Linked DNA regions of Homo sapiens. The protein of the gene in region 1 interacts with the protein of each later gene in a pairwise test. Each region holds a gene or a part of one and is shown on either strand. Other genes may lie near its edges.

The links.
Region 2: the proteins of ELOVL4 (region 1) and TMEM243 interact in binary tests that used the Homo sapiens proteins (3 or more experiments, as listed by UniProt).
Region 3: the proteins of ELOVL4 (region 1) and ANKRD46 interact in binary tests that used the Homo sapiens proteins (3 or more experiments, as listed by UniProt).
Region 4: the proteins of ELOVL4 (region 1) and PLP1 interact in binary tests that used the Homo sapiens proteins (3 or more experiments, as listed by UniProt).

Annotation. Positions count from the first base shown.
Region 1 is NC_000006.12:79,944,538-79,952,362, reverse strand, and holds the start of ELOVL4 (very long chain fatty acid elongase 4), read left to right. Parts: upstream 1-4,976; 5' UTR 4,977-5,083; coding exon 5,084-5,183; intron 5,184-7,825. Other genes in the region: uncharacterized protein LOC124901350, read left to right, coding at 4,548-4,976. UniProt on the Homo sapiens protein: Catalyzes the first and rate-limiting reaction of the four reactions that constitute the long-chain fatty acids elongation cycle.
Region 2 is NC_000007.14:87,195,733-87,202,752, reverse strand, and holds the end of TMEM243 (transmembrane protein 243), read left to right. Parts: exon of another isoform or gene 1-573; intron 574-1,526; exon of another isoform or gene 1,527-3,695; coding exon 3,696-3,746; exon of another isoform or gene 3,747-4,707; coding exon 4,708-4,812; coding exon of another isoform or gene 4,813-4,938; exon of another isoform or gene 4,939-5,071; intron 5,072-5,994; coding exon 5,995-6,117; 3' UTR 6,118-6,593; downstream 6,594-7,020.
Region 3 is NC_000008.11:100,556,760-100,564,734, reverse strand, and holds the start of ANKRD46 (ankyrin repeat domain-containing protein 46), read left to right. Parts: upstream 1-4,975; 5' UTR 4,976-5,024; exon of another isoform or gene 5,025-5,697; intron 5,698-7,975.
Region 4 is NC_000023.11:103,771,901-103,779,855, forward strand, and holds the start of PLP1 (myelin proteolipid protein), read left to right. Parts: upstream 1-4,939; 5' UTR 4,940-5,095; coding exon 5,096-5,099; intron 5,100-7,955.

The DNA.
Region 1 (7,825 bases):
CTAAATGCTTGCCTAGAACCAAGTATTTTTCTGATGTCTTGGGTTTTTAAAAGTAAGTCCTTGAAATACAGCTGGTTTCTTTCCTCTATCATGGTGAGTTTATTTCCCCTCAGGCTCTTTTTATCTTCTCCTACCCTGAAACCAGATTGCTCTTCAGTAATAGGAATATGAGAGCAGGGTGAAAAGGCATTCCCCATTAACACTTGGAATTTATTACCAGATTTCTTGGACCAAAGTTTGTTGATATCCATGAAGACAGATATGTTAGAGTAGTAAGTGAAGGAAATCACAACTCAGACAATACTCAATTAAGAGTGACAAAACTTTTCTTGGTATAGCCAAGCCAGGAAAAACGGGCAGAACCACCATGGTTTGGCCCTCTTATCACTATATGCTTGAATGTATGACTAAAAGTGTGGGATATGGCCTTGAAACATGGCTATGTGAAGAGAGACTGGGCTAATGGCTTTGACCGGTAAAGAATACAGATTGGGTGTACATATTGGGTCACACCAAAACAATGAATATCCAATGTAAGTAATTTGTAGTTGTCATTCTTAGGAAAGGAGTAGCATATGTACCTTAGAAATATGCATCAGGGGTTGCAAAGCTGAGAAGGCATTCTGATATATGATTCTGGTGGAGGTGGTGGCGGGTGAACCTAACTTATTCCCAGCATTCAATATGCCTAGTTGAAAATCATTATAATAAATTTAGTAAGAGACAAATAGCAAACTGGGAAAATATATTTGCAACATATGCAGACAAACTGTTAATAACTTTATTATAAGAAGATGTCTTATAAATCAATAAGAAAAAGTAGACACAACTAATGGAAAATGTCTAAAGAATTCAAACAGGCAATTCCTGAAAGAAGGCTAAAATTGCAATAAACATGATAATCTGTCAAGCAACAATGAAATATCAATCTTTACCTCTCAGACTGGTAATGATTACAAAGCATACATTCAGTAAAGAGAATGGGGTGGGGAAATGAGCACCTTTTCATAAATTTTGGTGGAATTGTGAATTGGTACATTTCTGGAGGTTAAGTGGGCACGATGTGTCAAAATTTGTAAACTTAAAACCCTTTGACCAGGTACAGTGGCTCACACCTGTACTCCCAGCACTTTGGGAGGCCAAGGCAGGCAGATCACATGACACCAGGAGTTTGAGACTAGCCTACCTAACATGGTGAAACCCTGTCTCTAATAAAAATACAAAAATTAGCTGGGTGTGATGGCACACACCCGTAATCCCACCTACTCGGGAGGCTGGGGCATGAGAATCCCTTGAACCCGAGAGGCAGAGGTTGCAGTGAGCCGAGACTGGGCCACTGCACTCCAGCTTGGGCGAGACAGTGGGATGCCGTCTCAAAACAAAAACAACCACCTCTCCACCCCTAAAAAAAGTCCCAAACCTTTGACCCAGAAATTTCCCTTGTAAATATTTATGCTAAGAGTTATTAAACAAGTGCACAAAATTGCATATTGTGGATACTAATAGCCCAATTGATACAGTAGTTCAAATTTGAAACAATCTAAATGCTAATCTATAGGGTAAATGGCTACATAAATGAGTGTGTATCCATATAATGGAATATTAAGTACTTGGTATTACGTTGAAAAGTATTCCTGATGTATTAAATTTTTAAAAAAGCAGATTATAGAGTAGCATTATTTTAAAAAACCATCTGTGTTAAGAAAAAAAGGCTTATATAGGCATGTAAAATTTATTTAGAATGGGAGACAAAATTATAGGGGGGATTTTCATTTTGTTTCTTTTTTTGTTATTTTATCTGTGCTAATGTATTATCAGGATAATCTATGTCCATTTAAATAAAATAAAAATAATTCATACAAGCTAACAAAAAGGTAAACATCTTTAAAAGTTTGAATGAAACATATCTCGTGGAAAACATTGTAATTCCAAGTTAGTCAAGCACCTGTGTTATATGATGGCTATAACGTGGGGGAGGAGTAATGAGCAGAATAAAACAAAAGACTGGAACTAATAGTAGTTAGTGTTATCAACAATTTTCTCCATTTTCTCTAAGTAGCATCCATGTAGCAAAATTTACTTCTAGAAGATTCAAAGTCTTTCTCTACAACTCTTTAATTAGGTTATTTCTTTTTACTCCTGACTCAACAGGCTTCCAGGTTCACTTTTCTTTGAAAGCAGAGGTTGCTGACAATATTACCAACATGGAAAGGTGGACTAGGAAAAAAAAGATGGATAGCTTGATTTATGTTGCTAACCTTGTATGGACTGTAGGACATTTAAAAATATTTTGTACTGGGTGTGGTGGCTCACTCCTGTAATCCCAGTGGTTTTGAAGGCCAAGGCAGGAGGATTGCTTGCAGGCAGGAATTTGAGACCAGCCGGGGCAACACAGCCAGTCCTCCTTCTCTATCAGCTATTTAGGAGGCTGAGGCAGGAGGATGAGGCAGGAGGATAGCTCGAGCCCAGGAATTCGATGTTGCACTAACCTATGATTACACCACTGCAATCCAGCCTAGCTGATAGAGTGAGACCCTGTTTCTAAAAAGAAAAAAATATTGCTATTTTATACAAAAAAATTTATGATAAAATGTCCTCTCCTTTAGGTTTTGTAGGTAACTGTATCCTATTTGCATTTGATCCACATGAAAGAACTCTGTTCTCAAAGTTTGCAGATGCTGTTGTTGCTTGTATTTGCTTTTACTCTGTTATGATGCTACCAAGATTTTGGTTAGATGGCTGTTATTCTAGGTGGCAGACATGCGGGTTTCCCTCCCTTTGCACAACTAAACAAGGTAGGCTTTGGTTCTGGGCAGTCACTGGTATTTACAAACCACTTATTCATGCCAGGTAATAGGGTTCCAGATTGGGTAAGTTTTATGTTCTGGTTCTTGGTATATGTTTAGACAGCTTATAAATGTAAATAAACATTCTACTCTTACAGGTGGAGTGTGGACACGGTGATATCCGTGTGACCGCCATTCCCAGCTGAAGGTTATCTCATCTATGATTTTCTTATACGTGACTGGCACCCCCTAGTGAATAGGGACTTAAGTTGACCTCCACGGTAGAAGAAATACCAGGGAAATACCTGAAGCTGTTTTAACAATTTCTCCTTGTATTAAGTATTATGCTGCAGTTTTGCGTGTGTGAATGGAAGTATGGGTAGAGATCTGTTCTCCCTAAAAACTCCAGGATTCCACAATATAGAAATAGTAATCAAATTTTTAGGTGAAGCTCGAACTAATCCGAACTTTGTTAGATCATCACTGTAAATGAATGGGTATTTATCCACTCCCTAAATGAAGAGACTTGACTGGATTTCTTTTTTTTATATAGCTACTAGAATCTGTTACACATAATTTAGGATTGAGACTTGAGAAATTGTCATTCCAATCCAGAAAACTTTAGATTTGCAAATATATTTGACAAATTAATAAATTAACATTTTATTTGGTTAATTTCAAGAATAGGGCATTTAAAGAAGTCTGTGTTTGCTTTAGTTCGGCAATAAAGTTCCTGCCACTCACAATAATCCTTATTATTCTCTGAAAGACATGTTATATTTTTGTCATCATAAATATTTATTAATTACTGTTTATAGCACTGGGTTAGGTACTCATCAAGCAACCAAAAATAATTCTTACCATCTAGGATGCTTCCAATATAAAATATAGACAATATATAACCAGGTCAATTGGGAAATAGATCATTTCAGTATGATAAAAGATAGTATTCACATTAACAGTGTGAAAGGGCAGGAACAATAAGACACTTGACTCACTGGTCTTTAAAATGTAGCATCCAAAATGAGCAAGTGGAGAAAAGGTTAAACAAGTAGGTGACACATTTAAAAAACAAGTAGATGAAAGGACTATTCTCAAAAATCTTGTTTTATGTGAGAAACCATCAAATTATGAATTCCAAGTACTGTATTTTTTTTACTTTTCAAGGGTAGGCTCTCCTATACCTTATCTAAACAATTTTTCAAAATAGCCACAATTACTTTGTTTTCCTCTCTACACTAAATTGCCCTTTGCCTCTTGAGCGATTATCTTTTTCAGATTCACCTCAACTTCTTCAGGTTCAAGCGGACTTCACCTGTAAGCCCCTCTCGGTTCTCCCTCTTCTCTGAACTACTAATGGCCTAATTTAGCACAATTATATTGCTTTGTTCATTCCATGTATAGTAAAAGAGTCTACAAAACACATGCAAGCATTCATGCAATTATATGTTGATTTGTTCATGGGTCGACCCCAAAGTCTATTCTCCATCGCTGAAGCATGGAAGACAAATACCCTTCACTTCTTCAGAGGCATAACACATGCACTTCTCTTGTCATGGTGACAGGCATGTGCTGGTGGAGGTCAAAGAAACAGGAACACAAGTGAAATCGAGGTGAGTGTCAGGTAAGGACCAAAGCACCACGCCTACCTCATCTTTGCCCACAGAACACCCATTCTTCCCGTGTCCTGTTTCCCAGGACGTATCCGGGGCGGATAAGAAATCACCCGTGGGGAGGCGGTGAACTCCTCCGCAGGGGCCGATGCCCGGGACAGGGGCGGGGAAGGCTAATGAGGCGACTTGTGCGGGGAGGGGCCAAGGAGGAGCCCAGGTGTCCCGCTCCCGCTCGACGGCGCGCGCCTGCGCGAGCCCAGTTGGCGTCGCACCCTTGAGCGCAGCATCCCTACGCCAGCGAGTCCCAATACTAGGGAGGGAGGGAGGGAGGAGGGGCGGCCGGCCCCCCGCCCCCGCGCGCGGCCACGTGACGCCGGCTGAGGAGATTGGAGGGGCGGCTGCGCGAGGCTGCAGACTGGTGCAGCGCACTGTGCTGGCGGCTGGGCCTCCTCCACCTCCTCGTCTTTCTCCCGGGAACCTTGACGACGCCTTCCGCTTGGCCCTGCCTTCTGCCGCATCCCCGCCGCCGCGGCGCCTTGAGGAGCAGGAGAAGACGCAGCCGGGCCGCCGCCGTTAGAGGGGTTCCCGGCCGCCGCTCGCCCCGTCGGCCGCCACCGCCTCCGGGGTCAGCCCTCTCTCTGGGTCTCCGCTTTCTCCTGCCGCCAGCGCCCGCTCATCGCCGCGATGGGGCTCCTGGACTCGGAGCCGGGTAGTGTCCTAAACGTAGTGTCCACGGCACTCAACGACACGGTAGAGTTCTACCGCTGGACCTGGTCCATCGCAGGTAAAGCCGCTGACTTCCCCATCCTCGCTCGGTCCCCCGCGGGGGGTCACCGGCCCCTGGTCTCGCAGCTCCCGGGCCCGGCCCCACAGGCCCCCGCGCCCTGCGGCTTTCGGATGCTGCGGATCAGCGGAGGGGCCGGCGCGGGCACTGCGGTTGAGCACTGGTTAATCTGATCCGAATGTTAAGGCCTCCCCTCCCCCGACACTCGCAGGGTTTTCTTCTGAGCTCCCTCCATCTCTCATCAGCTCTCGGATGCGGGAGCTGACATATCAGATGGAGCCTGTGCAGCCAGGAGCTCCTCGCAGGAGCCGCCCCACCCTGTGCTCCCACATCTCCCGAGCTCGCCTCCCTCTTCCCCGTGCACAGGATTCCTTTTAACATTTAGTCCTATTTTGTATGGAGAGCGGGCTGGGGAGGAAGGAGGGCTTCAGGGGCAGCTGAAGGTACAGGAGGTTTCTTCAGCCTCCTGGTCGCTTTGACAGAACCCTGCTAATCTTTTCTTCTATCTAGCTCCTTCATCTATAGTATAATTCGGACTGAAAAGTAAAATAATATTGTTTGGCTCCTTGAACCTTGAAGAATGTTAGTTTCCGAGGCATTTTCAACAGCAAATATGTTTGAAGTGATTGTCTATAATGGCTTTGCGCACTGCAGTGCAGTCAGGGGGAGGGGGAGGCCAAAACACCGGGGAAGAAATCAGTCTTTAGGAAGGGGGTCTCTACAGCAACACCTAGAGGTTGTCCCAGATGCCTACATATATACAGTTCTTAAATCAGCAAACTTTTCTTTAGCTGTTGCAGTTAATTTGGCAGGGCTGTCAATTGTTTGATTTATGCAGCTTTCCTAGCGTCCAACTGTGATATTATATTTTTACATTGTACTGTTTATTTCTTCATTTGCTTCGCTGCTTTTGATTTTAAAGCATTTAAAAGTCTTTGAAATCTAAAATAAGGTTTAAAGGATTTCAGAAATGATTTTACGAGGTCAATTTTTCTGGTCCTTTTGCAGTATCACACTGCATCCTATCAGTGAAGGATATTAACGTTCCATCTTATGACTCTGCCTTCCCTACTTCGAAATGAAAATGTACTCCTGTAGTTTTTGTGTTCATTGTTGTTAGAGGAAATTAGACAGTGGTTACAGCATGAATGTAGTCCGATACATAGGGCTTATGTTTTGGGAAAAACGTATGCTGGAATTATTTTTGTGAGAGACAAAATGATTATTTGGCATTAATACTGCATTCACTTCTTTAGAAAAGTATGTTCTTTTTCAGAAGATCTCAACTTTGACACTGGGAAATAAGCTATTTAATAAGCCATTACAGCTGAAAATGGTTAAAAGGCAGTTTTCAATGGAGTGTTTCTTCAGTTTTTTTTTTTGTTTCTATGCGCTATTACACTGATGTTACACTGTACCTGCAAAAACTGGGAAAGATGTGCCCTTCCCTTCACGTCTGTGATTTCGGTTCTTTAAACGTTGCATCAGGGCTTCCCATTACACAATTGTATAGAGCTGAACATCAGACAAGTTCTTTAGCAGGTAATTGCACTTCGCACACCTAGGAGTCAGACACTGTTGAGATACTCCAGTCTCCATATAGCCAGAGCCACACCCAGGAGTTCTCGGTCCTGTCATTCCTATCCTATCCCGGAGCTTTCCCATCTCTTGAGTCTCAGAAGGAAAAATTGAGGGCAAAGGTAGAATACACCTTTCTGTGATGGTGAATTCCTTCCTGATGATGTTTGTGTAAAAGAAACCACACACACACAAATGAAACAGGAAATTTTGTGCAGTTGCCGCATGTGAAAGCTTGCTACTAGGCTTCGAAGGGCATATAAAATAATATAATATTGTGGGCCAAGCCTGAGAAGTGAGAGTAGCCTTAGAACACAAGTGACCTCTCACTAGCAGGCCGAAGGAAGGTATTTGCCTATGCTTTGACTATCCACTTACGAAACCTGAGACTGCTTCCTTGCTTTCTGTAATGAGCTACCTTATGTAGGCAGATGGTATTTCTTAACCAACAGAGAGGCTTAGTGGATATAGTCTGTTCTGCTGTACTGCTGTGTGAGGAGGAGTATTTTTCAGGTCCAGGCCGAATAGACCTGAAGTCTGTGGTGTCCCATTTACGTTTACTCTCCCTCATTCTATGCCCCTCGTGTTCCTTTTTTTTTTTTTTTTTTTTTTTTGGACTCATTCACTCTGCTCTGATTCCACCTCTCAGCATAATTTGATGAAAATCTGGGTGGGGGATATCAAAATAGAAAAGTAGCTTATAAGATGAGGTTAAACAAAAGTTGGTGAGTCAAATGTTTGGAAAGAAGGGGAAACAGAAATGGGCGGGATAGAAAGATGGTCTTGAGAAATAGTGATGAGTGTGGTGAAAGGATGCAAATTATTGAGGGAGAGCAAGAAATGAGGTAGGCTCCTTGTCCTTGGCTGCTCTCATTCCTAGTGCTGTAGTTACATGCTTCTTTCATTCTTTTATTAATTCATTAAATGCCATTTTGTGCTATTATATCAAATGGTGCTTTAAATATCCAAACATATCCAAAGCAATGTCTGAAAACTGGGCTTTTCAGAGGCACATATGTAGCAAATACAAAATATGGTCCATAATAATGTTAACAACAAAAATG
Region 2 (7,020 bases), on another chromosome or scaffold:
GGTTTCTAGACCGTGTTAAGGTCTGTATTTATTAGTTTTAGGACTGTTAGACCTTTTGAACTGTTCATTACACTTGTCTTTTGTGAACAGCATTGGATAGGAGATTTTTTGCCATTACCTAGCCGTGTGACCTTTGGCAAGTCAGTCTTCTGGAACCTAGTTACCCATTGGTAAATAGAGATAACACTCCTTACTTGCTTTCCACCATTCCAGATACAAACCAGTTGCATATATCTCCATCTTTTTCTCCTTCCTCATTCTAAAGGAAGACAAAGACATGAATCCGTCAGGCCCAGGCTCTTCACTGTGCATTGCATTCCAGCTCTTTTCCTCTCAGCTCTCATGAAACTTGGTCAACAATCTCCATTTGTCCCATTGATTTTTTGTAACAGCAATGCTTTTGTTCTCCCATGGGTCTTTGTGGAATTCCTTTCATGAACCATCTTTCCTTTCCTTTTCATCTGCTAGTCTTCCTCAGGGTTTTGACTTCTCTGGTAGTCTCTCCTTGACTGTCCAAGATAGCTCACTTTCTGTCTTCTTAGTGCCCTCCTGAACTCTGGATAGTGTAAACTTCTGGAAGGTAGAGATGTTTTTATTCACTTTTGTATTTGCATCTGAATTATAGTAGATAATGTTTAAATGCATAAATATATGACTTACAAGATGATATAGGTGAAATCTCAACTATATATATACATGTATGTATGCACACAACGTCTGTCTTTATGTTCATGTATATATGAATTCAGACTATCTCTAAACCTGTTGCAGAATATTTTGTCTCTGGGAAGGAAATCCTAAATCTGTATCCTGTCCTCTCAGCAGGCAAGGATCCAGGCTAATTGCCATCCTTTGTCCTGTCAAGCTTCCTTGTGGAGTGAAAATAAGCCACAGTACAAGGTTTAAAATTCTGGTAGGAGAGACAAGTTATGGTAGGTAGAACTAGAGTGAAAATAAAACTGGGGAGGAGACAGAGCTAGTTTCTGTGAGAAATAATTGAGTTAATAGAGACTAGCTGTAGAAGTAGAAATAATGAGTTTCAATTTACTCCATAAACAGCAAAGTTTAAATGTATTACTCACTTTTCTCCATGTACTCTAGCTCCAATTTGGAGCATATTATTCCCCAAACTGTCCTTTGAAGTGTTAATTAACTAGCTATTTAATTATTCTCTATTATCCTCTTTGGAGATTGGGAGCTAGAAGAGCTGCTAAAACCCTGAAAAATAATCTCTAGGCCCAGGGAAGGAGCTGTACCCTGTGATTTGAACTTAATATTTAAAAATGGCTTATTTTAGACTAAACTTTAGAGCACAGCCTCTCCATTTTAAATGTGCACATAAATTACCAGATCCTGTTAAAACGCAGATTCTGATTCAGTTGGTCTCAGTGAGGCCTAAGATTCTGCATTTCTTGCAGTTCTCTCAGGTGAGGCCGATGTGCTGGTTCATAGACTACACTTTGAGTAGCAAGTTTAAAACAGAGAGCATTAGAAGTAGGAGGGCTTCTGAAGTTAACTCTGCATACCTGAATTCATGGTTGATAGAAGGCCTTGGCTTGGAGAAAGAAAATATTCTGAGAAACACTTCTGCCATGTCCGAAATAGTTCATCCCATCTTGGGAATCCCAGAGGGGACCACTACATTATAACAATAACTGATATTCATGAAAATCTGTTGGAATTCTGTTCAGTGACTATCTAAAAGGTAGGCAGGAAAGTATTCATTAAAGTTTAGATATATTTTCATCAGGATGATTAAAATCAGTTATATGGAGAAATCCAAAAATGTGGAACAAAGTCACCCATGAGGAAATCATTCTTGAAAGGTAAGCACAGTGTAGTACTTTGCTAATAGGCTTTTTGAGGTGTCATCTGCCACTTGACATCTTTGTCTAGACCAGCACTAGCACTCTAGGTTGTTCTTTGGGTGAGAAGCATAAATAGGGAAAGGAGGCCTGGCACTGAATCTTGTCTTTATCACTTAATGGTATTGAGATCTTGGGAAAGTTCTCAGTTTCCCTGAGCCTGTTTTGCTACCTGTGAAACAGTCATATTACCATTTCATCCTAGAATTTTTAAAGAGAGGATTGGTGAATGTGCTTGGCATAGTTAATATCCTTTTACCATTATTTTTCTCCTACTTTGATCCTGGTAGGCAACTTGCTGTGTGTCATTTGGCAATTAGTGATATATTGGCTTGACTTCTATTGGTGGGAGCTGTTATGAGGTATGCAGTGCTTCATTTTGGAAATCCCTGGCGCTCAGAGAGCAGCAGATATTCTTGCTTCTCAAAAATAGTGGGGCTCCCATGGATTTTGTCTCTCTACACATTTTATGTTGTCCCATGTGGGAAGAAGTTAAAGTGAGTGGTGACTTGTCCCTGGGTCCCTTTCCTAACAAAGTGGTCCTAAGTTCAGGCTCCTGTGTGCTGTGTAGGCTTCTCTAGCTGAGGTCGTGGTAAGATCTCTTCTGAGTCCTCTGGAGTTAGGGTGTGGCTGGAGTCCAGTATCTTTTGTTCTGTAACCTTTCAGTTGCAGTGGCCTTGGTCTGGAGAGTTGTGATTTGTCCTTGGTTAGATCACACACATCCAATACTTGGCTTTCTTACTCTTTCCCTCCCAATTTTGCCTGACTCTTAACTTCTGTGGGTTCTTATCCTTAAAAGGCGACTACTTGGAAATGAGAATTCGGTTGCTGCTCTGTGATTGTTCCTGTGTCCTTCCCATCTCTGAGGTTTTGTTTATTGGCGGCATGTTCCATATCCTGCCATTCTCTGCTCAGACCATTATCAAAACAACATTTAAGACGACTGATTCGTTAAAGACTCAGCTTTGACTTCTCAGAAATAAGACTGCATGTCACTATCATACTTTACCTTTTTAGTAGTACCTGAAACTACTTCTAACCAGTGACCTGGATTTAGGAATCTCTGGTTTCAAAATTGCTTCTAACTTGTTATGACTCTTAGAAAATAATTTAACCACACTGGGCCTAAATTTAGTTTAACCTGTAAAATTAGGATTGGATCAGTTTTTCAAACATTCTTTGTTGGTTGGGGTGGGATGGGAATGACAAGAAAGCTCAGTAGGTAGGTTCTTCATTCAACCAATATTTTGTTTATATACTAAAGCCCTTCACTATTAAATAACTTGGAAAAACTACTGGACTGGATGGTCTCTTAAGATTGCAAGTGCCAAGCCTTGGCACTCTAGGACCCATCCCTTTTAACAGTAGCATCTATTTTTAGACTAGACAAGGATACCTAAGCTGTATTACAAATATAGTTCCAGACACATCATGGTACTCTACATCTAGTCCGGTTCCTGATACCTTTAACCAATGCTCTGGCCTGGCCATTCCTGCAGTGCCTGTCCTTCTCCTTTGGCTTATGCTATCCTCAGCAGCACATGCATTATTTGTAAGCCTCCCTTACCCATTTGATACTACCCAATCAAGACTCTAGTATAAATGTTCTGTCCCTTCAAGAAACCTTCCCCAGTTGGCCATTTTCCCAAAGTACATTTTCCACTCTTATGGTTCAGTACACTTTGCTTTGTCTGGTAGTTTTATGTGTAAAGCTCAGAGGACTGGATCTTGGGTTTCTTTATAGTAAACCATCCAAATGCCTTGCATTGTACTATACTGAAGGTAACATGGATCCAAGTCATATGGCTTAAAAATTCTTTTCTCTTTCAGGATCGAATCATCAATTTAGTTGTTGGCAGCTTAACATCCTTATTGATTCTAGTAAGTATCCTCATTTTGTGCCTCACCCAGGCTCTTAGCCAGTTTTGAAAACTTTATCAATTATGGTTAACTTTCCAAAAAAAGCTAAATAAGTGCTTTTAATTTTATTACCACAAAATTGCAGTTGCTAATTGGAGTAGCTAATTTAATTCTGCCCCACCCCCAGGTTGAATATGTGAAATGGTACAAGTCAGACAACTTCGTTTTAAGATAATTGAGTTTACCATGTTTTGCCTAGTAAATTTGTAAAAATGTCAGTGGCTAGTAGCCACTTCCTTCTGTCATCTACCATAATTCCCCATTTCTATTTTGTTCCTGAAGAACATATCCATTACCCTTTGGTCAAGTTTTAAAAGATTTGGTCACAGTGTATAGTAGTTGTACTGTATACATCCTGTATACAGTATACATCTGGGAGCTATTACAATAAAATTTTTAAAAGCTGTATTTTCCATAGTTTGACATTTTTCTGGCACATTAAATTTAAGAGAATTTTTTTCCATGGCTTCTTAATGAAAAGATTGCATATAATGCTGCATCTGTTAGAAACAGAACTATACAACATTAGAAGTCTTTCAGTGTGTTTCATAATGTTATAGCAAAACCAGCTTTGATTATATTCATTTTGCTAGAAATATTTAAAATAACAAAATGGCTAGAACTTTTACCAGCAGAATCATTAATCCTGGGAGTGAGGTTTAGTTAATGAAGTTATTTTGGCATCAGCTAGTATTACTGATGTTTTCTCTCCTTTCATAAGTAAGGGAAAGTTTAGAAAAGAAGTACTAAAATAACTCGAACATATTTATAATTACTGTATTAACATTCTAGAAAGCAAACTTGGTGGCAGATGTAATTTTATAACATGAAGCATTTTGTAGTACTGTTGCCTAGACTCCAGTTGGTAATTACCAAGTCTTGGAATTACTGTTAAGGCCTTACATAATTTCTCTTCATACAGGTAACGCTGATAAGTGCTTTTGTTTTCCCTCAACTACCTCCAAAACCGTTGAATATATTCTTTGCTGTCTGCATCTCTTTGAGTAGTATTACTGCCTGCATACTTGTAAGTACTGTTGAGAATTTAAACAGTGTTCTTGAGGGTTTAAGTTGCAATGCACAGGACAAAAATTTTCAGCCTTGGGTCTATACAAAAGGGTATCTCTTAATTATATCCTCATCCTCCCCCTAAAAGTATGTTAGAATTCTCAATAAAATCTGAGTCTTCTCCTTTTCTCCTAAATCCCAAAGTTGTAACCCCAAAGAGAAATTCCACTCCCTTGATAGCTTAAAAAAAAAAAAAAAAAAAAAAAAAAAATTAGTGGAAAGACGTAGGTGGCCAAAGATTTTAATTTACTTAATTCATCTTCACTCAAGGACTACGTAAGGGCCAACAGTCTTTGGGAAATGCCAGTTACTGCTAAGGGAAGAGATAGAGCACTCTGGATTTAATTCTAATTATTACAAAATTAGTTTAATCTACATGTTTGTTTCCCAAAATGGAGGTATTAACACCAAAACCTCCTGGGAAATCTAAAGCTGCAGTTGTTGTAAAAATGTTTGATTTACTGCAAATGTTTCTTTTATGGTGAAGAAACAAAGATGGTGGTGGCTCCTCAGTGTTCATTCATTAGTTGGCTACATTGTTTCATGTTCCTTTAGAGGCAGAATCAAAAGAAAAAACAATAGTAATTTGCTTATCTGAGTTAAAATTAATTAAACCAGGAGACACCTCCAAGTGTTCTCATTCACTGATCCTGCTATATACTCCCATGACCCGAAGAAGAACTAGCCCATCCCACTTTGGGAGCTTTCCTGTTCCCCTAGCTTGAAGCCTAAAGTGACTAACAGACAATGAACTAGTTTAATCCAAATATATTATGGAAGCCCTATTTTACGGTCTGAACCAACTGTATGAATCATGAGTCTAAATGTTGTCTTCCTTTCCTGTTAAGTAGTATGCCCAGGTATATGTTCTTGGATAGCTTGCCAGATGACTGGTGGAGTATACAGGTGTGAATATAGAGGAAAGTAAACTGAGAAAGTAGGAATAAGTATGATCTTGGATGTGGAAACTCAGAGTAAGAATTAAATTCTGGCTGTACTGATCTCAGGAATGTAGAGACCTCAGAATATGGAGAATGTCTGTCTCATTTAGGGGAATAAACAAATACTAATGAAATTTGAAATTGGTAGAGAAAATGTTATATTTCAAATTTTAATTTATAAACTTTAATTCTTCTTTTAGATCTACTGGTATCGACAAGGAGACTTAGAACCGAAATTTAGAAAGCTAATTTACTATATCATATTTTCTATCATCATGTTGTGTATATGTGCAAACCTGTACTTCCATGATGTGGGAAGGTGAGGCTGCCAAGGAGAAGTACTTACCAGGACTCTTCAAAATGATACATTAGGACAGTGAGTAATTTTTGGATAAGGTATGCTGAAGAATCTCCTGCAGAAGTCTGATACATGATTTTCATGTTAATTGTAAATGTTAATTCCCTCTTGCAAGGGAGACATATCCTAGATCACTTTGCTTTTTCTTTAAGGAGCTGATGTTGCACCTAAACATTCCAACCCTTAAAGCTAAAACAGCACAAAAAAATTTCACTTTTGAAATGAAATTTTTATAATTGTATGGCAAAAGGCTATGTAAAAACAAATCTTGCATCTTAAGACAAATATTCTTTTATTTCTGTTAAACTGAATATACAATTGTTCCCTAGGCAACCAACTTTTGCTTATAACTACAATTTAATTTCACGTTGACAAAACACAGTGAAAAGACAACTTTGTGAAGATCTAATTACAATAATAAATAAAATAATTTATACAAGGGTTTTTTTTTCTTGACTTTTCTATAGGGGTCATATTCATTAAAAAGCCCAAAAGGCTACCTTTGCCTTAACCCTTCTGTAGTACAGGAATGATTCTTAGATTTGTTTCCTTTTGTTATAGAAGCAAATATTGTTTTTTTAAAATAGCCTGAGATGAGAGGTTATATTGTACCCCACCAGCTAACACACTAAGTGGATGACAAACTATTCTCTCGGTAATTTATATAGCAAAACATCTAATAAATGGTCATGGTATCAAGGATAGGTAACATTACTTCCTTCCTCATTTAGTTTTACTTCAAAGTGCTAACTTTGTAAACTAATGACAGTGGTTTCTGAGGGGGTGAAAACTGCTTAGATTCTGGTGGGTTTTGTTACTATGCTTATCCATATTCCCTTTAAAAGTAACAAAAAACCTGTAGTGAATT
Region 3 (7,975 bases), on another chromosome or scaffold:
CTTGCCTAAATGTACATTCCATCATATTTTGCCTTGTGTGTGTGTGTGACAATCTGTGTGGTTCTGGCATGTGTAGGTAAGTGGAAAGAGAAATGACAAATGGATGTTATGGCAAGGAGCTGAGATCGTTTTTTTTCTTTCCAAGAGTCCAACTGTTATCTTAGTAACTTCAGAAACCCAAGGACATCTAAGATTTTACTTTGCAATTAAGAAAAGAGATCCCTTTCTGAAAGTTTTTCTTGAATATTTTTTAGTTGTGCCAGTTGCTCTAGGAAAATATTATTCTCCTGGCTTCAAATTTTTTCTCTAATAGTTTCGCAAATATGTCCGGCACACAAAACACTTCATTTTTTTTTTTCTGGTTGTTTAAATGTTTAAAATTGTTGGGGAACGGAAATGACCCTAACTTTGGTGTAGATAAATATGTGCTACTTGTCTCATCTCCTGTACTTACTCATTCCATTGTTATGCCTGAGAACCCACAGTGTTGTGGAAAACACCTGATTCGTGCTAGCCGGGCTTGAGAGATGGGAGACCCACGGAAGCAACACCTGTCAGGAGCATGTCTCCCTCTCATGGTCATTCGTCAGTACTACAGAAACCAAATGCACCCTGGAACAGGAAAGCAGAGCTCAAAACACTTACTTCGTAGGTGCGGTGTATTTTTTTCAAACACCTCCCCATTCTGACCATATCGCCTTTCTACAGAGACAGCTAGTTACATTGGGATAGTTGCTAGATCACTTTCAGTCTCTTCTGATGAGCATTCAAGTATAATATTTTTGAAAGTCTGTCTGCATTTTTTAAGACTGGATAGGAATTTATATAACGAATATAGTCAAAACCCTTCTTATCCCTAATAAGAAAACTTTCTAAATGAAAAGCCTACCCAAAGCAAATATTTCCTTTCACTTATTCATTCATTCACTCAATTGTATCTAATACAGCGATTCTCAACTCAATCCTGGCTGCACATTAGAGTTCCCTGAGCAGCTTTTAAAAATGCAGATGCCTGGGCCGTGCTTCCAGATGATTCTAACTTGATCTTGGCTAGGGCCCAGGCCCTGTTTTTTTTTTTTTTTTAGACAGAGTCTTGCTCTGTGGCCCAGGCTGGAGGGCAGTGGCACGATCTTGGCTCATGGCAACCTCTGGCTCCCAAGTTCAAGCAAGTCTATGCCTCAGCCTCCCAAGTAGCTGGGATTACAGGCACCCACCACCACGCCCGGCTAATGTTCGTATCTTTAGTAGGGATGGGGTTTCACCATCTTGGCCAGGCTGGTCTTGAACTCCTGATCTCATGATCCACCCGCCTCGGCCTCACAAAGTGCTGGGATTACAGGCGTGAGATGCCGCGCCCGGCTGGCACTGTTATTTTTTAAGCTGCTGCATGATTGTAACATGCTGCCAGGTTGAAAACTACTAAGCTAATATTCCCAAACATGTCTGATGTGCCAGTCACCGTGGTGGTGCTAAGGATTCAGTGGTAGAGACACTGCCACAGAAGGTGATAGCTTTCTGCCATCAGGATTCACAGGCCAAACATACCGTCTCCTCTGTCTAGAATACTTCCCTTGTTCATTACATAATTAATTCCTCATGCTTTGCATCTTAGATTAAATATCACTTATTCAAAGACATTGTTGCCCTTCTATCTAAATTAGCTCCCATATTGTTTGCCCTCAAGGAATCCTTTCTCTTTCGCTTCATGACACTTATCTCGGTTGTAATTACAGGTATTCCTCCGCCATTGGAACTCTCACGATCAAAACTCAGGACCAGATAGATTTTAGTAATGAGGAAGAAGAGGCAGACTTACCTGAAGAGTGTAAAGTTTAAGCTTCAGGGCTCTTGTGGTAGGCTGGATAACAGATCCTCAAAGATGTCCACATCCTAATCCTAATCCCCAGAATCTATGAATATGTTGCTTTGCATGGTAAAAAGAACTTTGCAAATGTGATTAAGTGAAAGATCTTGAGATAGGGAGATTATTCTGGATTATCCAAGTGTGCCCAATATAATCACAAGGGTCCTTATAAGGAGACAGGAGAGTCACAGAGGAAATGCAAGGACAGAAGCAGAAGTCAGAGGGGTGTAAAAATGCTCTACACTGCTAGCTTTGAGGATGGAAAAAGGAGCCATGAGCCAGGGACGTAGGTGGCCTCTAGGAGCTGGAGAAGGCATGGCAACCAACTCCCCTGAGAATCTCCAGAAGGAAAGCACTTCCCGCACTTTGATTTTAGCTCAGCGAAACTGATTTTGGACTTCTCACCTCTTGAACTGTAAAATAATCCTTGTTTTAAAGTATTAAATTTAGGGTAATTTGTTACAATGACAATAGGAAACCAATATATAGCCCTCCCTTGTTCAGGCCCCTTCCAAGGCCCTGGGAAGCAGTGCTGATATGGTTATATGTTTTTGTAAAGCTTGCAAAATTAAAATACTTTACCTACAATTGATTAAGATTTCTCTCTTTCCACTGAGACTTCCGGAGTATTCTTCTACTGGCTAACATTGGAGTGACTACAGGCATTTTTGGGATCCAGCTAAACAGAAATGCAGCTGGGGGTACTTTGGTTTGCATTTAATGGGAGACGTTCATGTGGTTCGTGGTCACTTCCATGCACTATTAACTTATTGCTGGAGAGTAGGAATGGCTTCTGCAAATGCTCCTGTATTAGTCCATTCTCACACTGCTATGAAGAAACACCTAAGACTGAGTAATTTATAAGAAAAGACGTGTGATTGACTCACAGTTGAATCACAATTCTGCATGGCTGGGGCAGCCTTAGGAAACTTACAATCATGGCAGAAGGCACTTCTTGACAGGGTGGTAGGAGACAGAATGAGTGCTGAGCAAAAGGAGAAGCCCCTTATAAAACCATCAGATCTCATGAGAACTCACGCGCTCTCATGAGAACAGCATAGGGGAAACTGCCCCCATGATTCAATTATCTTCACCTGGTCCTGCCCTTGACATATGGGTATTATTATAATTCAAGATGAGATTTTGGGCAGGGACACAGCCAAACCATATCAGCTCCTAACAGCCACTGTGTCAAAGTGCCCAGGTGTGGTAACATGAAGGAGCCATAGAATATGTGCAGCATGCAGTTCACTTTAATCTCATCAGAGAAAAAAGCTGTCTTCACCATCCCTACATTTTTTCATATCAATCAAAAGCAGTAATTCATGAAGAGGAAGAGATAAATTTGAATAGAAGTAATGGAGAGGCTCTCAGATTGTTGGATGAGTCAACTAATGAAGAGTAAATCTTATTAATACATTGGGAAAAGCTTTAATTTCCTTGCTAATTTGTCATAGTTTATAGGCATCAGTGAAGATATTATAAACTCAATACACAACCAGAAGGAGGACATCAATAACAAACTGATTAATAAATGTCATCAATTTAACAAGTAATATTGCTGATTAGTCATAGCACAATAAAATGTGAAATGCCCTAAGATCTTATAACTTTTTTTTTTTTGAGATGGAGTCTTGTTCTGTCACCCAGGCTGGAGTGCAGTGGTGAGATCTCGGCTCATTGTGACCTCCGCCTTTTGGGGTTCAAGGATTCTTGTGCCTCAGCCTCCTGAGTAGCTGGGATTACAGGTGTGCAACACCGTGCCTGGCTAATTTTTGTATTTTTGTAGAGCCAAGGTTTCACCATGTTGGTCCGGCTGGTCTCGAACTCCTGACCTCAAGTGATCTGTCCACCCCAGCATCCCAAAGTGCTGGGATTACAGGTGTGAGCCACCGTGCATGGCCAGATCTTATAATTCTTACATGAAAGAAATGTAATAGTGATTTCCTCTAATATGACAATAGTCCTAAACCTTTACATGACACTTTCAAGAACAAATTATTAGATGGTGTAGGTGGTCCTTGAATGAATGAACCATGAGATACCCTAGAGCAGGGGTGTCCAATCTTTTGGCTTCCCTGGGCCACATTGGAAGAAGAATTGTCTTGGGCCACACATAAAATACACTAACACCAGCAATTGTTGATGAGCTAAAAAAAAATTGCAAAAAAAAAAAAACTCATAATGTTTTAAGAGAGTTTATTAATTTGTGTTGGGCTGCATTCTAAACTGTCTTGGCTGCATGCAGCCTGCAGGTGTGGGCCAGGGGTTGGACAAGTTTGCCATAGAGCGTGGCTTGGTTGGATGAGGGTGCTAGAATTCAGAGGACGGTCACTGTGCAGTGAGAGTTGTCTTGGCTGTAGGACTGGAGTTGGTAAAATGAAAAAAAGAAAAAACTAGTTTTGCATGAAAGAATGTTTCCAGCATATGAATGTCCCACCACACTTTTAGTTAGTCTTGGCTGTACATGTTGCAATAAGTCAAGGAACCCTACAAAGTAGGATGGAAGGATTCAAACTGCGAATCGCTTGAACCCGGAAGGCGGAGTTGGAGTTTGCAGTGAGCCGAGGTTGAGCAACTGCACTCCAGCCTGGGCGACAGAGTGAGACTCCGTCTAAAAAAAAAAAAAAAAAAAAAGATTCAAACTGCTTTTGAAAAAAGTAAAAATGCAGGGTTATATTTTAGAAATAGTGCAGCCAATCATTAGTGGCTATTCCTAATATGTCAATTTCGGGTCTATAGAAGACCTACCTAGAGGCCAGCAACTATTAATTGATGCTTATAGCACCTAATGAAACTGCCCTTGCCTTTGAAGCCCCCATTTAGCTAAGGGGATGGGATGTGAATTTAGAATAGGACGTGAAAAGTGCAAAATGCTCCCGGACTCAGATCGGATAAACCTCTTCTAGGCTGTCTTTCTCTTCTGAAGCCACAGTTTTGATGCTTTCCCTAATTCAGAGCAGGCTTTCCCGGAGTCTCTGACTCAGAGCAGCCCGAGCCACCGTGAGGACCGCCCACCTGCAGGGGGCGCGCCGGGGGCTGCAGCGCGAGACCGCTCTGGCCCAGCGGGGACTCCGACTACCCCTGTCTGGCCCCTCCCCTCCGCCCGTCACCGCCTCCTTGAAGCTGCCGCTGTCGCTGCTGCTCGTTCGAGTCGCAGGTACTTGGCCCGGGGCCTGTGGGCAGCGCCTGGGCTAGAGCCACTTGATATCTCCTGCACCGTCCCTGTAGCACTGGAGGTCCAGTAGGCCTGGCCGGGGCCCTGAGGGGCGAGGGTGCCCGGGCTTCCCACACCTTCCGCGGCGACTGGAGGGAGCCGGGCCGAGGAAGCGACCGCGGGTCCGTGATGGCTTCTTCGCGGTCTGTGTGTTCACGAGGGCCGGGCAGAGGCCTGCGAGGGTTCTCGTTTGCGCTTGCGGGTTAGGGCTGTGGTCCGGGGAACCCCTGGGCAGCGCGGGCAGCCCTGGCTCGCGGTTAATCGGGGGGTGGAGCGCGGAAGCCACGCCGCAGGTCCAGCTGCTCGGCCGGGGCGAGACGGTGCTTTCGCGGCGTGTGCTTGCAGGAGCGCACAGTTCAGGCGCCGGGACAAGCTGTTGGGGTGTGAGTGAGCTCTCCAGAATGGCACATGGCTCCGGGGTGCCCGGGTTAAAAGGAAGGATTTGCACACCTTCCACTTAGGGCTCGGGTAATCGCAAACTTCCTCCCTTAATTGGCTTGCAGTGCTAAAAAGCAGATCGTTCTCTCTGAGGTTTTCCCAACAGTACCTCAAGAAAATAACATCTGTTTTTTGTAACGTTCCACGGTATTCGGAATTGGCTACAGAACATAATAAGGTAAAAATATGCCATTGAATAGTAGCGCTTCTCAATCTTTAAAAAATGACGGTGGTACCTAGGAGCCTCTTAAAGAGCTGTAATATGAGTGGTGTGGGGATTATTTTTATGTTCTAGTAATAGCTATTTTCAGTGCTTATTTTATGTCAGACACGGTGCCATTGCTTTAAATACCTGGTACCTTTAATCCTTGAAGCAACCCTATCAGGTACCATTTCCATTATACAGATAAGGAAACTGAGGCACCGAGAGTCTGACTTCTCCAAGGTCAGAAAGCTAGCAAAGGCTGAGCGAGATTTGGTCTCATCTCCCTTACTTCAGTATCCCTGCGTCTGTTATCTAGCCAAACATGTAGCGCTGTCTAAGAGTTTTATCAATTAGATTTGTAGCCTGAACTGATTTCTCTCAGGCTTAGTTTTCATGGTTATATGCAGGAGTCCTACATGAACTCCTTTTTAGTTTAAAAGGAGTTTAGTAAGAAAACTGTTAGCTCATTAAGGACTATAGTGATAATAAAGTTAAACTTGGACTGGGGTTCTCACTGTGCCAGTACAATTTGATTTGAAATAGAGATGAATTTGTTTGGTTGTTAACACACTTTATTACATTTCTTCATTATTTATGTTTCCATACCATTTTTTAGTGAGTTCACTTTGCCTTTGCATTATTATGGTAGCAGTACCAGAGGGAAATCAAAGATTTTTTGATGATAGTAAGTTAATATTTTACAGAATACAGGAAAGGCACTGGAGAGAGGATGTGAAGTGATAAGGAATTTTTGGCATGTTATATAAATTGTGTTACTATGGAAAACAAAGGATTCTCACAGTTCTTTATCAAAAGGGAAATTGTATTTCCCATTGTGGAAATAAGTTGGGCTTTATAGTCCCAAACTTCTTAGCCTTACCTATTATAGATTTAAGAATTTGCATATTCGGCATTCATATAGCAAGCGTATATTGAGTGCCTTCTATGGCCAGGCTCTGTTCTAAGCACTGGGGGATGTGAGAGTGAACAAAATGAAGTCCTTGTCTTCCAGGAGCTAACATGTCACTGGAGGAAGGTGGGGTTGGGGACGATAAGCGGGATTTGTGAAAGTTAACGTATCTGGAGTCAGATGGTAACAGTTACTAGGAATAAAAATAAAGTAGCAAAGGGGGATAGGAAGCACCAAGGAAGGAACAGGTGCAGTTTTAAAATAAGGACTGGTGCCATGGAAAAGACTCAAGCAAAACTGAAGGCGTTGGGGACCGCCATGCAGCTGTCTAGGGAAAGAGCATACCAAGCAAGGGCAAAAGCCCAGAACCCTTCAGTCTTGTTAGAGGGACAGCAAGAGAGGAACAGCAAGGAGGCCAGTAGATTTGAGCACCTGGAGGGAAGGAGGGTGAGACAAGGTCAGAGAGCTAATGGGCCCAGGTAAGGACTTTTGCTTTTACTCTGAGTGAGAAGGGAGGTGTTTGGAGGGTTTTGAGCAGAGGAATGAGGGGATCTGGCTTAAGGTTTTTAAAGGATCACTCTGGCTGCTGTGTTCAGTGTTGACTGTAAGGGCAAGGATGGAAGCAGGGAGACCTGTTAGGTTGATGCAGTAATTGAAGCCAGAGAGAATGGTGGCTTAGACCAGGTGGGTAGTAAGAGAGGCAGTAAGAAGCCGTCGTATTCTGAGTATTGCTGATAGGATTTGCTTATGGTTTGGATGTGCTTATGAGAGAAAGGGTGAAGCACGACCCTGTGGCCTTTGGCCTGAGCTATTGGAAGGCTTTAGTTAAACAGTGTACTGAGATGGAGAAGACTGAGTGTGAAGGTAGGTGGAGCCAGTTTTAGTCAGGTTTGAGATGCCTGTTCAAGTGGGGTTATAGAGACGGGAGTTGAAGAGAAAGGTCCAACTGGAAATAGAAATTTGGGAAGTCACTAATGCAAGCTTGTGCAACCCAAATTTGTAAACTTACTTAAAACATTATGAGATTGATTGTATTTTTTTTTAAGCTCATCAGCTATCGTTATATGTGTGCCCCAAGACAGTTATTCCACTGTGGCCCAGGAAAGCCAAAAGATTGGCTACCCCTGCACAGAAGGGTAGTATTTAAAGCCATGAGCCTATGAGATCTAGTGTAAGGAAATGAGAATTGAGCTCTAGGGCTTTCCACATTCAGATATTGGAGAGATGAATAATTACAAAGGAGAGGCTTTTGAAGGTAGGAGGAAAAAGAAGCGAGTATGGAGTACTGAAGGCCAAGTAAAGAGTTTTTCAGGGAGAAAGTGACCAACTGTGTCTCCTCCT
Region 4 (7,955 bases), on another chromosome or scaffold:
TTAGACTTTCAGACAAACAATGAGCAATTTCTCAGTATAAGTATGACCCATCCAGTATTTCGGATATACTTAAATGATTATTCATTGTTTATCTGAAAGTCAAATTTAATTGAGTTGAGCATCATGTATTTTATCTGACAACCCTACTTGCCTGGGCGTGATATTTCAAAGAGCAGAGGAATGGGGGGCTTTGGGGACTTCCCATTTAGTGATTTCAGCAAGGGGAACCTAACACCTGCTTTTGTTGTTGGCAGCCCTTGAGGCAACTGCTTCAAGCACAATGCTTAAGGCAGTGTTCCAGTGCTGGTGTAGGCTGACCAACTTGTTTTGGTTTTCCCAGGCCGTACCCATTTTTAGCACTGAAAGTCCCACATCTTGGGATCTCTTCGTTCCTGGCAAACCGGGATGATTGGTGATTGGTCACCCTAGTGATAGACATACCCAGAGGTGCTGGTGGAGATGTTAGAAGACAACAAATACACAAAGAAACTGCTAGGTGTGTCTCAAAGAGTCTCAACATTTCTTCAAAGCACATATCCTTGGCTCCATTTTAAAGATAGGCAGGTTCAGGGGAAGTATAGGAATCCTGGATCTGAAAGGTGTTGGTTCTAGAGATCACTAAAGTTCAGCCTCTATTTTTTAAATGCTTATCAAACATTTGCAGAGATACTCTGTCACCCCATCTGGTGATTATTATTATTATTGTTATTATACTTGAGCATAGGCACTATGGTAAGAATTTTATGTTCAGTATCTTGTGTAATCTTTTTTTTTTTTTTTTTTTGAGATCTGTCGGAGCGCAGTGGCACCATCTCGCCTCACTGTAACCTCTGCCTTCCAGGTTCAAGCACTTCTTGTGCCTCAACCTCCCGAGCAGCTGGAATTACAGGCATGCACCACCATGCCTGGCTAATTTTTATAGTTTTAGTAGAGACAGGGTTTCACCATGTTGACTAGTTACTGACTAATTTGGAACCCCACTGATCCTACAAACTGCCGGAAGTTTGCCTCTGCCCTGGGTTTCAAATAGCGGCCTCCTACTTAACCTGAGAAGTGTAGAAGGTTGAAAACTTGGGCTACAGCAGCCCGAAGCCTGTCCATCCTCCCCCAGCCCCCGGCTGTTGTTGCTCAGGGCAAAGGCTCTCTATTCACACATTTTTTCACAGCAGAACAACCTCCCAAGCAACTTCCAAGCAATAAGAGTCTGGAGACAGGCATTCTCTAGAGATGGCTCTGGTCTTTGCTTGCTAGGTGCCATTGGGAAAATTGTCTCAGTATCCCATCAGTCAAATTGAACAAATAACATTGGTTCCCCAGAAATAATACTAGTTTTATTTCTACTTTGCTCAGAAATCACATCAAACAAGCATCCTCCCTGCAGGGGCAACCCTGCAAAAGCTGGCCAAGTTTTTATGTTGGTGGAGGTGGGTTCTGTGGACAGCTTGTTTCTTCACATTGCTAGTAGCTATGTGGTGCTCCTCAGGCATTCTTTAGCTGAGATTTTTCATGTGATTATTTTGGCTTCCAGGCTACTCTTTACTCCATCCCAAGCCACGGGCATCTCCCCCTCACAAATACACCCCATGGCCTGCCCCTATCCATCCTCCCATTGTTCCTTGAACCTTCAGGAAAGGCAGAAGATCACCCTCCACTCTCTACCCCTGTCTGCCAGCTCAAAGTATGTGACATCTCTGGCCCTCAGCCCTCGGTTCTCTTGGCCAGAAAGGCATAGTCTAGCCAATCGGCATGAAGTTGGGTGTGGAAAGTTCTAGCCACAGTACATAGGACATAATATACTGCCTGCCTGCCAGCCAGCCAGTCTTCTATGCCAGGGCTAGGAAAGCTGCCTTCCAAAATTTGGTCTGGGAAGACATTATCCTGGGAATGAGAAGCAAAGCCTCAGCTCTAGAAGCCCAAATAATAGCAGATGACCCAGGCTTTCACTGGTACGCGCTTCTCTCTTCCCCTTTATGTTCTTCTCTGTGCTCAGGGAGAAGTTGGCCACTAGATTGGGCACTTGATCCCTTATCTAGTTTTTCCTGGGAGAAATTCACTGGACTTCTCTGAGTTTTAGAGTTCAGTCTACACAATGAAGCAAGGAGAACCCACTTGATCTGTGGCCTTCAATAATCTGATACTATGGGATCATAGAGCAGAGAGTGGAGGTAATATTCAAGTGTTTTCGAGTTATTTGCAAGAAAGCTGCACAGTCAAACCAAGCCATGATCAAGGGGGCCCAGATTCTCTGAGGTACCATCAGAATTGCATGAAGCAAACTGTTTACGAGTTTTATACAATCCTGCATTGTTCCCACAGGCACCCAGTACAGGCAGCAGGCTGCACCAAGAAGGCTGGCAGTGCCTCTTGAGGAATCCCTTGGCAGTGCAGGAGCCTAGCTGGACTCAAGAATATTTTGCCAAGGGCACCCAGCAGAACCAATGGAAGCAGAATCACAGAAATAGGTGGGGGTATGTAGATAAAAATGGGCTCTGGAGGACCTGGGAAGATACCCTATGAGGTCTGTAGGGAGCCCTCAGGAAAGGTCTGCTGACGAGGTACTGAGGCAGAGTGTCGGGATGTACAGAGCAATGAGAACACACTAGATTCTAGGGAGTTGGGAACCTTAAGGCACTGGGATGAGTGAGACACGGTCACCTGGCTGGGTCCCTTTTCTGGCCCTGGGCATAAGAACAAGCATAAGAACAAGGCGAAGACAGGGAATGTGGAGAGAGAAAAAGGAAACAGAGACAGACACATAGAGAGAAACAGAGACAGAGACAGGTAACAGAGACAAAGAGATTGAGACTTGGGGAGAGGATAGAATGAATATTAAGGCAATGGAGATGGAAGAAAGGAGAAGAGAAATGTGTGTTAAGGGAATGTGGTTGATAAATTGGTATCTGTGGGTTTATTGGGAACACATATTTTCTTTCCAGTAGAGTTGCTGTCCCCAGAGCTGCTGCTGAGAACTCAGGGGAAGCTTTGTGAGAGGGCTCAGTCTGAGTGATGTCCCCTGTGTGGAGAGCTGTCTCATCTATTCGAGCTGTGAAGGATCATTTGCCTCATCCTCTAAATCTGAACTCCCAAAGTTTGGGCTCACTCCTGCCATCTGATGAGCTGAGGAGACACATTTGGCGATTTCTTGCTCTTGGTCCTCCCCCTTCTCCAGGGCCATTCCGACAGTGACCATCCAGAAGTTTATTGCTGGCTCAATCCTACAGTTGAGCTTCCAAAGCAGGCATAGTCTGTGGCTGGCGAGCAGGGCTGGGGAGGGCGAGGGGCTCTAGGACCCTTTTCCATCAGTCACATGGCCTTAGTCTCGTCTGCTCTGGAAAGCTACTATTATACCGTTTTGCAAGGGGCAGCATTTCCAGAGATCCTTTTTTCTTGGGGCTGATACAAGAGCAAAGGATCTAGAGTTCTAGTACTCTAAGCAAGCCTCAAACGGTGCAGGATTTGGCCCCAGTGGGCCCACAGGGGCATCTGCCAAAGACTCGTCCATTTCCTAACAGCAGAGCCCAAGCCAGTAACATGTCCAAAGTCACAGCCCAAAGAGAAAACTGTAAGACACAATCTTGCCTTTCTCCCACCCCAGGAAGGTACTAGTCTCTGCTCAGTATCTCCCTCCTCTTCTCTCCTCTCCCAAGGCAAAATCACAGGAAAAGTTCCAGGAGACCATACCTTCCTTCTCCGGAGTCTTCCAACAGGTGCCCCTCTTATTATATGCCAGCCAGTTGTTTTAAAGGCCATCCATGGGAGGACACCGGCCTCTAGGTCAAGGGAGCTGTGAAGGGAGACAGGACTGACAAGGAGCCCAGACAGACACTGTTTAAGATTCACCTGTTCTAGAAAACCTTCCCAGGCTGATCCCATCTAGCAGTGGGCATTTAAATACCTTCACAGTCTTTAGAAATAGCTTATTGCTAAGGCAGGTTTTATATAGTATTTCCCTGTTTTTGCTGCTTAGCCATTTTTGTCTTACCGCTTCTTTCTCTGTGGCAAGGACTATATTTCGTTTCTTCTCTCCACCCTCACTGCCACCTGCTGCTTCACTCTAACCCACTCCCTGCCTCTTGTCTGCCTGGCTTAAGCTCTCTGATGAAGATATTACACTCTCAGGATAGAATACTGACTACCTGATTCCCAGATCGTGTTCTTGACTTGTCTCGAAGTCGATTATCCTTCTTGGAAATCACCCACATCTTCAACGCTGGCCTTTTCTTTAACCTAGTCTGTGAACTTGCATAGGTCTTGCCCACTTCTGGGTCTTTATTATTGTAGCTATAAAATTATTACAATTCTAGCCTCCCCCAGCCTAATCACAATCTGTTCATCGAATTGACAGCCTGCATTTTGTCTTCATGCAGTTGAAACTGAGAAGGATTTGGAGGAAATTATCTTAAAAGACAATTTTTTCTTCTCTATTGTGTTCGTAGAGCTGGGGGTGGGGGTGGGGGAGGAACGCTTATTTTCCAAGGAATCGGGAGGGGAAAGGTGGAGAGGGCCAAGGGCAGCTAGGAGTGATGTGGGGAGCTGGAGCAGATTCGGAAGGACTTTGGGAGCTAATATCTAGGTTTTTGACTCTGAGCCCCTGTTGGGGCTCTCACTTCATGGCTTCTCACGCTTGTGCTGCATATCCCACACCAATTAGACCCAAGGATCAGTTGGAAGTTTCCAGGACATCTTCATTTTATTTCCACCCTCAATCCACATTTCCAGATGTCTCTGCAGCAAAGCGAAATTCCAGGCAAGCCTTAGGGAAAAAAGGAAAAACAAAGAAAATGAAACAATTGGCAGTGAAAGGCAGAAAGAGAAGATGGAGCCCTTAGAGAAGGGAGTATCCCTGAGTAGGTGGGGAAAAGGGGAGGAGAAGGGAGGAGGAGAGGAGGAGGAAAGCAGGCCTGTCCCTTTAAGGGGGTTGGCTGTCAATCAGAAAGCCCTTTTCATTGCAGGAGAAGAGGACAAAGATACTCAGAGAGAAAAAGTAAAAGACCGAAGAAGGAGGCTGGAGAGACCAGGATCCTTCCAGCTGAACAAAGTCAGCCACAAAGCAGACTAGCCAGCCGGCTACAATTGGAGTCAGAGTCCCAAAGACATGGGTAAGTTTCAAAAACTTTAGCATTGAAGATTCAAGAGGACACAGGAATTCACAAGAGAATTTCCAACTTTGGGGTTCGGGGGTTCCATGGTTTAAATGAGTCGTGTTTTGGCACTTGTTTTCTTTTTAAATTCCTTAACATTCAGTTAGATTAACTCCTTCTCCGCTGTACTAAGCATGATGCTTTATTACCAAAGAATTCCAGCAGCACGTGGAGAGTCCCACAGATCTCTGGAGAGAGTGCCCAGCTGGATGGATGTGGTCATGTGTCCTCCTACCCCCTCACTTCCCTCTATCTTCTCTTTTCCCTTGGTTCCAAGGCCCTGGCAACGGTTGGGTCAGCTTGCCCTCCTGGTTCTGCTGGAGGCCACTGAGCACTGTCTAGCCCTCAGATGTACAAAATAACTGCTTGCTTGATGCAAACTTTGAACCATGTTTGGCATTAATAGGAAGCTGGGGATCGGGCAAGCTGGACTCAGGCTTGGCTATGGCTGAGGAGGCCATTCTCAGGTTCAGGAAATGAAAGTAAAGTCCTCAATGGCTTGACCATGGGAAACAGATATGGGTAGGAGTGTGTGTGTGTATGTGCATATGTGCATGTGTGTGCACATATAGGGTTGATCATTTCTAGCAAATATCACAGACACAGCTTTCCTGAAGGCTCTTTGCTGTGACAAGGAGGATGCTGGGACATTAGGGCTCTTGCTAAGTTGGCTGAGTATTGAGGGCTTTTCTAGGTTCCGTGAACAAAGACAGAAGCTATGAAGTTCTGGTGGTAGTTTCTACTCAGAGTAATGTGTGCAGAGCACAAGGGTCTTTGTCCCTATTGGACTCCACAGAGTCCTGTAGACATTGCTAACATTTGGCAAAACAAAGATAGCAGCTTAAACACATCCTAAATGAAATGAGACTCAGTTGCCCCATGTATTCCCTATCAAATGTAGCATCCAGTAGACAACATCCACAGAGATCAATTTGCAATTATACTGAGCTGGTTCAGCCTTTAGGTTGTTTCATCATGAAACACAGAGAGAACACTTTGAAGCATGTGTTCAGGTAAAACAGGAGGGAGAGCACTGGACAGGGAGTCGGAAAAATCAGATTCAAATCCCAGATCTGCTACTTATGAACTATGTGACCTTGGACAGGTCACTGAATCACCACTTCCTCATCTGGAAAATGGGGACAGCAATAACTACTTTGTCTACTTTCAGGGTTGTGAGAATCAAGTAACAATAATGTCAAAGTCCTTTGAAAATGGGCAAGATCTATAACAACTGTAAATCATGATAATACCTACTATTAGACAATAATGTGTATACAGGCGAACTCTTCCTCTTTCCAGGGTGGTTGGGTTTTCTTTGCGTGCTTGGGTCAGAATCATTTGACCAATTATGTGTGACCAGATGAGAGGTGAATGTTGGAGGAACTCAATTCCTGCCCTGGGTAACATCAGGAATCCTATCTAATGTCAGCCGAGCTGACTGGATAGGTTGTGCATTAAAAACAGAGAGGGAGTAAAGAAGGATGTTGAATATTACTTCCTCAGGGGATGAAATCCCTGAGGAAAGGCAGGAACAAATAAAGTGACCACAGGGACAATTGCCTGTTATGGAGGCTGGGTGGTTTCCTCCAGAGGAAGAGTGCCACAGATAAGGGCACGATTGAGGATGCACATTGGGTCCCAGGTCCTAAGGGTGGACGATACTTGGGCCAGGTACATATGATGGAGCAGCCACTGAGTTTTCATTTATTCAATAACAGAGTATCTAAAGTACTTTGAATTATAGATCATCTCTAACAAGGTACTGGACTGCCACTACTTCTGATGTGGAGTGCACTGCTGTTCAACAATTGCAGTAAACACATTGTATCATGGAATCCGGGATTGGAAGGAACTTTAGAAGTTGTCTGAGCCAACCTTCAATGCGGGATTCATTTTTACAACAACCAATTAAATGTTCGTACAGCCTCTGCTTAATCACCTCCAGGAACAGGGAACTTACTACTTCAACCATATAGAATCCCTTAGGATTGGAAGCAAGGAGGAACACTGATTCAGTAGTGTCTGCACAAAAGATTTATGGGGAAAATGATAGCTCATTAATTTTTGCCTTGATTTGGAAGGGGAATGTTCCAAGTGAGTCTTTGGGATAATGATGGAACCAGAAAGGAGCAAAAGAGCAGTAGCTGATTATTCTCTGCTCTGAAACACAATGCCATTATTGAACAGCAAAACATTGTCTGCAAGCCTGTTGTCGTCTGAGAACAGTGGCTGTTACCCTGGTAACCAGACTGTGATGCCTCCATCCAAAAGTGGCTGTTTGCCAAGCAGTGTAGTTTTGGCTGGCTTGCAGTAAGTGGGTGTAGCCCAGGCAAAAAGTGTGGCGGCAGAGCGGGGGTCCAGTTTTATAAAATGCCCGAAGACTAACTGAGTCCCATCAAAATGGCAAGAATGCCCCAAGAATACCAGGAGCCAAAAATAAACCAGATCCCAGCCAGCATGTTCACCTAGTCTTCCTGGAGACACTGACTAAAATAATCAAGTGCAGCCTTCTCTACCTCACTTCTCCCTTTGGCCGTGCAGAGCCAGAGGAGTTCTTGGAAAGCCAGGCAGTTTGAAAGGTCTACCCTGCTTTAGGGGGCCTTGGGCTTGGCTCTGAGCTAGGAAAGCCAGAAGTTTACTTAACAGGCTGACAACTGGAACTGCTCTCTCAGAGCGATCTGAGTAATAACAACCTCAACCCTGGGAGGTGGGTGGGAGGGGAAATATAGTCTCCAAACCCATTAAGGTAGAACTCCAGCCAGTAACATCACTTTCCCCCATTGCTTTTGTCTATCGTCCTGAAGCCTTGAA